Linked DNA regions of Homo sapiens. The protein of the gene in region 2 purifies or fractionates together with the protein of the main gene of each other region. This does not show direct contact. Each region holds a gene or a part of one and is shown on either strand. Other genes may lie near its edges. The genes, in order: HIBCH and SCRT2.

Region 1 (4,329 bases), on a different chromosome or scaffold from region 2:
TTTCAATGGATCTTCACAAACACCTCTAATCATCAGCACATCCATTTTCAGATGAGAAAATGGAGGTTCTGAAAAGCTATATAATTTGTTCAAGGTCATTAAACTATTAGTGTGCTAGGGGTAGGACTGATTACATAATTTGCAGGCCTAGTGTAAAATGAAAATTTGTGTTTCCTTGTTCAAAAATTATTAATAGCACAGCATTAAAACAAGCACAGGGCCCTTCTAACGATGAGGCCTTGTGAGACTCAGGTTTCACACACATGAAGCTAGGGCGGCAAGGAAGATTTGAATCTCAGTCTGACTAACAGGAAAGCCCATGCTTTTTCCAGTAAACCATGCTAGGTCAGATGAATGGTTCATTTCTGTGCGCAGTGAATGAGGCATGATGGTGATGTCAGATGGTGATGTCCTGTAGCCAGTTAAAAACCAAATTGCAGGTAAGGAGTTCCTTCTGTGATGTCTGTTGTCTGTCCTCTTCTCAGTGGGCATTTGGTTATTACATTTGACCTAGGTTAGCAACGTAATTTTTGATCAAAGTCTCAACAGTGTATCTCTTTAAATATCAAGGTACTAAGAATAACTCCTTTCATGTGTCCTCTCTGAAATTTGTCACCGGATTTCTTCTTTCTGATAAATGTGTCAATACTTAATAGTGGCGATGAAATGTCTTCTGCTACACATCTGGGTGGATCTGGAAGCGGAGGAACGTTTTCCTCAATTTAACAGTGGATCCTAGTAGTTGAGTTAAATGTTGGTTTCATTTAAGAGTAAGCTACTTTCTGAATGTAATTATGCTTCCACTGATAACAGCAACTTTTACTTTAGTTGGGAAGACATATCTATTATGTCTTAATCAGACAACTCTTGTGTGTCTTTGAGGAAGAGTGGGAGATCTGTAACTTTTCCCAAGAAAAATGAAAATGTCTCAATCCTAATATTAAAGGAATTCGGCTGTATTGGGTTAGGAATGAATAAACTACATCGATGTCCTTTATCAACTGTAATTCCTCTACTTGAGTCTCAAAGAATACTAAGTTTACGTTTTAATAAAAAATTACTAAAATTCCAGAAAAGTCTTTCACATCAGTCCCTGCTGGTCAAATTGGCAGGCCAAGCCTAGACAACAGGTTGCGCTTTGGGCTAAGACAGCCTCTAGAGGGCAATCTCCTTTCCTGCGAATCCGCCCTAGTCCGTTCTATCCTCCCTCTTCCCGCTCCGCCTCAGCTCGCTCTCCGCCTTCTCCCTGGCCCGGTCCCCGATCCCTTCCTCTCCCTCAACTATTTCCTCCAGGCGTCGTTCTTGCCCCGCCCTTCCCCGTCGCGTAGCGGAAACGGTCGCTCTGGCTTCCTGGAGGACTTGTCATCTGTGCCCGGCGGCGCAGGACGGCGGTGGGCGGGGCTCACGCGAGGCGCTGGAACGGTCCGGGAGATTCTCGCTCTGCTGCTTTAGCTTCGGAGTGTTTGGCGATGGGGCAGCGCGAGATGTGGAGGCTCATGTCGAGGTGAGTGAGAGAGCGAGGGGCCAAGGGCAGGCTCTTCAGCGGCACTCGCCACAGTGGGAAAAGGGCCGGGGGTGGAGACTGCTGGCCTCGAAGTTTCGAGTCGCGCTCAGAGGCGCCGCTGTGAGACCCCAACCTTGGCCCTCCCCAAGCCCCAGCCCCCGTCCCTGTCTTTCCTTTCTCCCTCTAGCATCTTCTTTGCAGCAGCACTCTGGTTTTCTGCCACTCTGGCTCTTAATTCAGGCTTGTCCCCACACGACTTTAATTCTTTTGGCCTCAGTTTCTTTCCTTTCTTAAAAGTTGGGTGCAGTCTGGGGACACGGACAGATTTAGCTTAGCGGAACTGTGCGGCATGTTTTGTGCAGCCAGCACACACAGGTGCTTTGCCAGTTGCTGCACCTCTCTCTGCCCGTGGTGTGATTTTATTCAGCTTTCTTGCATGGCTGCAGCGTCAGTATAGGCATTTGGAACTTTCAGGCTAGTGTTGAGGGACATTTAACGTGGCATGGGGGAGCATGTTTGCAAACATTGTTTAACTTTTTGAAAGTACCCCTCACTGCGCTTTGAGCTCAGCCTAGGAAATCTGGTAGCCATCATCTTTAGGCTGCATGCGCCTTAAACAGCCCACTGCCTGGCCCTGTACTGTCATACCAGGTAGCAGCTGCGCCCACTTGAAGGGAGAACCGTCCTTATTTCTTTAAAATAAGGACGACTTAAATTACTGGATTCTTTAAGCCTTAGAGTTTGCCTTCTGGGTTTCCTGAAAAGGGATGGAGGTGTTTCCTTGACTTAAGAAGAATAGTTTCAGGGGAAAGTGTCTAGATGTCTAACACTGTATCCACAGACCTAATTCTCAGTAAATTTTTGTTATACATTTAAGAGTTGCTTTTCTGTTTGTTTTTTTAATACCTTAAAATTAGTTGTCCTTGCACCAGCTCATGGAGAGATTTAGTAAATGCTAAGAAAATCAGTACACGTAATCGTTACTGCCGCTTTTTCAGTGTTGTCAGCAAATAGCAAATAGAGAAACAAACTGGAAAGACATGTTTGTTAAAGTTAGCTGACTTAGGAAAGGATCTGTCATTTCCACAATTCAGCTTGGCTTTCTTCCACCCCACGTTCCAAGATGCAGTACTCTGTAGGTGAGGCCAGGACCATTTTGGGGGCTTTGATCTGAGATGCCTTTTCCAGACTCAGCCCTGAAGTGGGTATTATCCTAGAAAGCAGAGGCCAAGATGGTCCAGTCCACAATACCCTAACCCACAACTGTATAAGGGAATAGGGTGCCACGGAAAGTGTTTCTGAGAGGAAAAAAGGCCTTGGGCCATGGTTGACAGTGTTGGGCAGCCCCACTTGAACTCTGGCCTCCCTTGGCTTCTTCGGTACTGGCCTACTTTTCTAATGCCACTCTCCACCGCCTCTCCTTACCCCAGTGCCAGTTTAGCTCTTGGACTTTTTTTTTTTTTTGGTTCCCAAATCATCTGTCTTAGGGTAACTCAAATTTTTGTCTAACCTGACTTGCCCTGAGCTCTAATGCTGGTCACAACCCTCTGAATGCCTCAGTTGCACCTCATATATAAATTTGCACTTAAGGGCTAGGCGCGGGGGCTCACACCTGTAATCCCAGCACTTTGGGAGGCCGAGGCGGGCATATCATCTGAGGTCAGGAGTTCAAGACCAGGCTGGCCAACATAGTGAAACCCCGTCTCTACTAAAAATACAAAAAAATTAGCTGGGTGTGGTGGCAGGGCCCTGTAATCCCAGCTGCTTGGGAGGCTGAGGCAGGATAATTGCTGGAACCTGGGAGGGGGAGGTTGCAGTGAGCCGAGATCATGCCACTGCACTCCAGCCTGGGCGACAGGGTGAGACTCTGTCTCAAAAAAAAAAAAAGGAAAAAAGGAAAAGAAAAATAAATTTGCACGTAAGTATAACCCTTACTCTTTGTCTCTCTTGGCACTATCATTCTTCTAGATTCTCAAACTTACCTAAGTTCTCCCACACTCCCAAACCTTAACCTCTTCCTGTGGATTCAGGTTTCAACAGTAGTCTCAAAGTTAATCACTTTTTCCTCTTCCCAGTGTGAATTGTTTCTGTACAAGATTGCCAGGTTAATCTCGCTAAGGTTTTACTTCAGTGCCTGCCATTCTTCTCAGAATCTCACAGAGGTGCCCTTCTGCTTATGCAATTAAATACAGTTTTACCAGTCTGGATTTCACAGATTTGGCCCCAGTATATTCATGGATGAACAATTACCTACTGTTCTGTTCTACTTGCTGGGAAGCACAGTTCTAGGCATTTCTATTATCCTGTAGCCACTCTGGACTACTTGGTTTTCCTACTGTTCCTTATGTAGGGCCCTTGGAGTCTGAAAGGAGAGCAGATAGGAAACACATAATTAGACAAAAGTAATTTTTGATTACCAATTCTGGTAAGTGTCTTAAGGGACAAGTACAGTTATGAGAGCCAGATTTAGATAGGGAGAGGGAGTCAGGAAGCCTCATCAGAGAGGTTGCTCTTCGCTGGGTGTGGTGGTTCATGCCTGTAATCCTAGCACTTTGAGAGGCCAACATGGGAGTTCAAGACAATCCTGGGCAACATAGCAAGACCCCGTTTCTACAAAAAATAAGAAATAAAAAAACTAGCTGGGTATGGTGGCATACGCCTATCCTTCCAGCTTGGGAGGCTGAGGTGGGAGGATCACTTGAGCCACAGAGTTCAAGTTTACAGTGAACTATGATTGTGCCACTGCCCTCTAGCCTGGGCAACATGGAAAAACCTAGTCTCTAAAAATAGAAATAACAGGAAGAGGGTACTTTTAGGTTGTTAAT
Region 2 (4,570 bases):
ACTTACACACGCTGAGAGAGAAAAACGTCGGCTCAGCAATTTTTCACACTTCCCTCAAATGCTCAGCAAGGTTATTTCCGGCAGAGCGGAGACAACGGGCCACCAGGAGCCGGCGGGCTCTCAGCAGACCCCCAGCACCCTCCACCCGCCCAGGGAATAAGGGATCCCTCACTGCCCAGTCTGGCCGCACCCCAGGGAGGGAAGAGGCCCCTGAAAACAAGACAAGGCAGACTTTGTATTTCCCAGTCATACCTAGGCTTGGTCTCTGGCACTGACCGTCCACTGCAGACACTGCCAAGGTGGCCAGGCCAGGGTGCCTGTCCTCACTATGGGGTAGCCTACAGAGACCAAAGCCAAGAAAAGTGCCCGATCCCAGAAATGCCGCTACCCTCAGCCAGGTGGCGTATGTTCAGTGGAGCCCTAAGGAAACCCTGACAGTGGCCTCCCAGCATCCTGTTAGACCCCTGTGCAGGCATCTCCAGTGCCTGACATTCCATAGTTGACCTTCACAGAAGCTGAGCTTGTCAAAGTTGGAAGGATGCTTAGTTTATGCCATCAAAACTCTTTCACTGCTGGGGAGGCTGAGGACCAGAGAAGGGAAGGCACTTGCCCAAGGTCACACAGCATGTGAGAGATCTAGAGCCCAGGCCTCCAAATTTCAGGCCAGGTTTCTGGCTATCAGCACAGCCTCAGGATTCCTGAGAGGTGAGGGAGTTGGTCTGGAGACCCATGGGGAAGGGGACAAAGACAGAGGTGGTTCTAGGGTGTTAAACCCGGTGGAACCTCTGCAGAAACACCCTGCTGGTGGCTCTGCACCCGCCCTGCTTCCCACTATTCACTCAGGGGCTCCTTTCAAAGCTTTTTTTTGGACTGAATTCAAGGCAAGGCATTCTCTTGCCTCCCTCCTGAGGAACAGCCTGCAGTTTTGGCTGTGCATGGGAAATTCTCTGGGCTTCTCTGGGTTTCCTCAGCTGGCCTGGGGACAGGACCAACGGGGCTTCAGGGGGTGGAATCCCAGAGCTTTGTGTCAGTGTCAGTCCCTTAAGAGATCCATATCCCAAGCTTGCAGATATTTCAGTTTCTACCAGCTTTGAGCGCACACTCTCCAGCTTTGGCATGGCCCCAGGTCCACCCTCTGTCCTGCCAGCCCTCAGCCCTGCTCAGCCATGTCCCTGGGCTTCTGACCTCCACCTCAAGAGGCCCTGTGATCAAGAAAAGAGGACAGTAGAATAAGGGACATGTGGGCAGAGGAGAAGGGGTTTCTGTTAAGGGTCTGGGGGATGCCAGTGGATGAGGGGCTGTAGCTGTATCCCTGATCACTCTGTAACTTCTTTGACCTTGATGAGGTCACAAAGCCCTTTGCCCAGCACTCTCTCTCTCTCTACCTGGTGTGGCAGAGTGATGGAATGTGGGTGAAGTGCTTGGAAATCCCAGAGGTGGAAGCCCCCATCCTCCCAGGCTCCTGTCTTTGCCATCTCAGTTCCCCCCTCATCCTCAGTCCTTTCTTTTCTCCTCTCTCAATCTCCCTCTTTCTCTCTCTCTCTTTCCCCACCCCCATCTCTCTCTCTCTCTCTCTCTCACACACACACACACACACACACACACACACACACACACACAACCCAAAGCTGCCACATGTGATGTCAGATCTCTCACTACCAAAGGGACACCTCCTCTTCAGACACCTGCCCTGGTGGGGGCCATCAGGGGAGAACCCCTTTGTGATCCCCTTGGTGGAGGATGGGATCCACAGAAGCAGTCTCCACTTTCCCCTGCCTTCCAGAGATCACCCCCTTCTGCACCTGAATGACTTCTCTTGTTCCTCAAACCCTTGTCCCTGCAGGAACTTGTTCTGAGAAGAGATGGAGTGTGTGTGTGTGTGTGTGTGTGTGTGTGTGTGTGTGTGTGTGTATGTGTAGTGAGGAGGGGGCTTACGAGGAGCAGCAGGGTTGGTTCTGGAGGGGGTTGAGAAGCTGGGGATGGGGAAGGAGTGCAATCCAGGGGACCAGGAGCCACTTTGGGGGAACCCCTCCCAGAAATCCTCTCTTTCTTGCAGTCCCCAGGACAGGCCCAGCCTTTGGCAGGCATGTGGCTGAGGGTAACAAAAGAGTTATTGAGAGAGGGGGTCTGAGAGCACTTGTGTGACATCGGCAGGGGAGCAGGTTTGAAGGGAGGGAGGGCGCCCCCAGCCACCCCCAGGGAACCAACCCTGTCTCTCCAGGGACTGAACATCCAGGGCTCTTTACCTTCCCCCTTCCCGGGCAGCCAGCTTCTCTTCCTCAACGGGGGAGAGGGAACCCTCAAAGTGCCTTGTGCCTCAGTGCCCAGCGCTGGCCTTTCACGAGCAGCCCCGTCTGTGTTCTCTTGCCACCCCCTCACTCTAGCCCTATTTGAGGGCCACAACTTTCAAAGTCCCGGCTGGCGCGTGGCTGCGGGATGGGCCGACCCCGCGACTTTCCCTTTGTACGACCTAGCCCCTGCCCCGCCCGCACGGCCCTTGGAAAGCCCGGGAGGAGCCCACGGCCAGAGAGATCTCCTCCCGGGGGTTTCCTGTCGCACGCGCCCCTCCTCGTGGCCCAAGCTGGGGAGGGCCCCAGCTCCCCTCGCCTCTTCTCCCAACCCCCCGCCCCCGCCGGGTCCCACTCACCGTTGTCCCCGGGAGGCCCCCGGGCGCCAGGCAGCACGTAGGCTGTCTCCAAGGGGTGGTAGGTGGGGGCCGGCACCCCGCTGCACTGGAAGCCGTCCCCTTTGATCTTCTTTACCAGGAAGGAGCGCGGCATGGCGCGGCCGGCGCGGGGCTCGGTGCGGGGAGGCGGCCGGCCGGGCGCGATCGGCTGTGTCCGCGCGGGTTTTCAGCACTGGACAGCTCCCAGCGGGCTGGAGCGCGGGAGGCCGCTCGGAGCCGGCACCGGTGGCGGCGGCCCCGGCTCGGGCTCGGGCTTGGCGGCGGCGGCGCGCAGACAGGGGATCGCGGGAGCTGCGCTCAGCACTCCGGCTGCCGGCTTTATATGGGACGCAGGCTGGAGATCAGGTGGTCCCCTAGCAATGGAACCGCTCGGCGCTCTAATCCATCAAATGTCCCCCAGGACAATCGCTCCGCACACGTTCCCCTGAACCGGCGGCGGTGGGGGCAGGCCCGGAGCAGGCAGGAGGGGAGAAAGTGAGGGCGAGAAAGGCGCAGAGACAGAGAGGGACGGAGAAAGGGGAGTGAGGGGGGCGGGGAGAAGAAGAGAGACTCGGAGAAAGACAGAGACATACAGGGAAAGAGAGACGCACACGCTGAGAGAGGTAGAAATAGAAGCAGAGAGACCAAGATAAGGACAAAAAGACACAAGAGAGAAACAGAGAGAGAAGAAAGACAGAGATGGAGAGAAGTAGCAACACACACACACCCACGGGAGGAAAAGAGAAATCCAGGCACACAAAAAGGAAACCCCCCCAGGGATGCAAAGAAAGGGAAAGAAAAGTGCAAAAGAGAGGGGGAAGCCGAGGGGAACGGAGGGAAAGCGGTCCCGAGCAGGCGGGGTTCAGGCACATGGGGCCGCAGGGAAGGGGATGCAGAGGAAAGAGTGCGCACTGGCCAGCGGCCACCCTCCCGCCTCCAGTCCTCTCCCTCTCCCCCAGTTCTGAAGTGGCCAGGGTGGACGCTCAGCTTTCACTAGAGTAAGTCTCCCCTCCCCCCTGCTCGGGCTCCCACTGGAGCCCCCTGTTGGGTTTGGGGTTCAACTTTCTTCTTCCAGAACTGGTGGGGGGAGCAAGTCCCCCACGCCGATGCCTGGCCTTGCTCGGTTGGTCCTGTTCCGGTGCCTAGCTCAGGCGGGCGCTGCAAGAGGAAGTGAAAATCGTCCAGTAATTAATTTTCCTGCTGCCGGGGGGTGGTGGTTTTGACACATCCGAGGCAGTGTCTTTCCCTGAAGCGGGGAGCAGACAATAGAGACACGTGGACTGGGAAGGGAGAGGGGGGAAGGGAGGGGGAGCGGGGCTCCTGCTGGAACTCTTTGCAGGTCAGCTCCTTTGTCTCTAAAAGGATCTGAGCAGACCCGCCACCCCCAGTCCGACCCAAACCTGGGGGAGCCCCCATATCTTGGCAGGACCAAGGAGCAGGAGAGCTCAGCCCCCTGCCCAGAGGGTGCTGGGCAAAGCCCCATGGTGGCGGACCTGCTTTAGCAAGTGTGGGATGGCCAGTGCACAAGAGTCCCAGAATCAGACTCTAGGAATTCCAGGCTCTCGCTGTCAATGGAATTCTGGTTATGAGATGCAAGGCTGGTGGAGTGGGGATGTCCTTTTGGGACTGGGTCATCCAATACCAGTTTGCAGGCTAAGACCTAGAGAGGGCTTGGAGGTGCTTGAGGTCATGCAGTGAGTCAGCAGCAATTGCCAGAGACCTCAGTGGCCTCTGGGCACCACTGAATCAGGGCCTATCATGGTCCTTGAGGTGTAGCCCAGAAGTCTCAGAATAAAACTGGGGCCCCTCGTGGTGGTTCAAGCCTGTAATCCCAGCATTTTGGGAGGCTGAGGCAGGAGGATCACTTGAGGTCAGGAGTTTGAGACCAGCCTGGGCAACATAGTG

The links.
Region 1: the proteins of SCRT2 (region 2) and HIBCH purify together in Homo sapiens (affinity purification with mass spectrometry; one large-scale study listed by BioGRID and IntAct). This does not show direct contact.

What each region holds. Positions count from the first base shown.
Region 1 is NC_000002.12:190,316,891-190,321,219, reverse strand, and holds the start of HIBCH (3-hydroxyisobutyryl-CoA hydrolase, mitochondrial isoform 1 precursor), read left to right. Parts: upstream 1-1,393; 5' UTR 1,394-1,469; coding exon 1,470-1,504; intron 1,505-4,329. UniProt on the Homo sapiens protein: Hydrolyzes 3-hydroxyisobutyryl-CoA (HIBYL-CoA), a saline catabolite. Has high activity toward isobutyryl-CoA. Could be an isobutyryl-CoA dehydrogenase that functions in valine catabolism. Also hydrolyzes 3-hydroxypropanoyl-CoA.
Region 2 is NC_000020.11:672,822-677,391, forward strand, and holds the start of SCRT2 (transcriptional repressor scratch 2), read right to left. Parts: upstream 2,982-4,570; 5' UTR 2,781-2,981; coding exon 2,648-2,780; intron 1-2,647. UniProt on the Homo sapiens protein: May be involved in transcriptional regulation.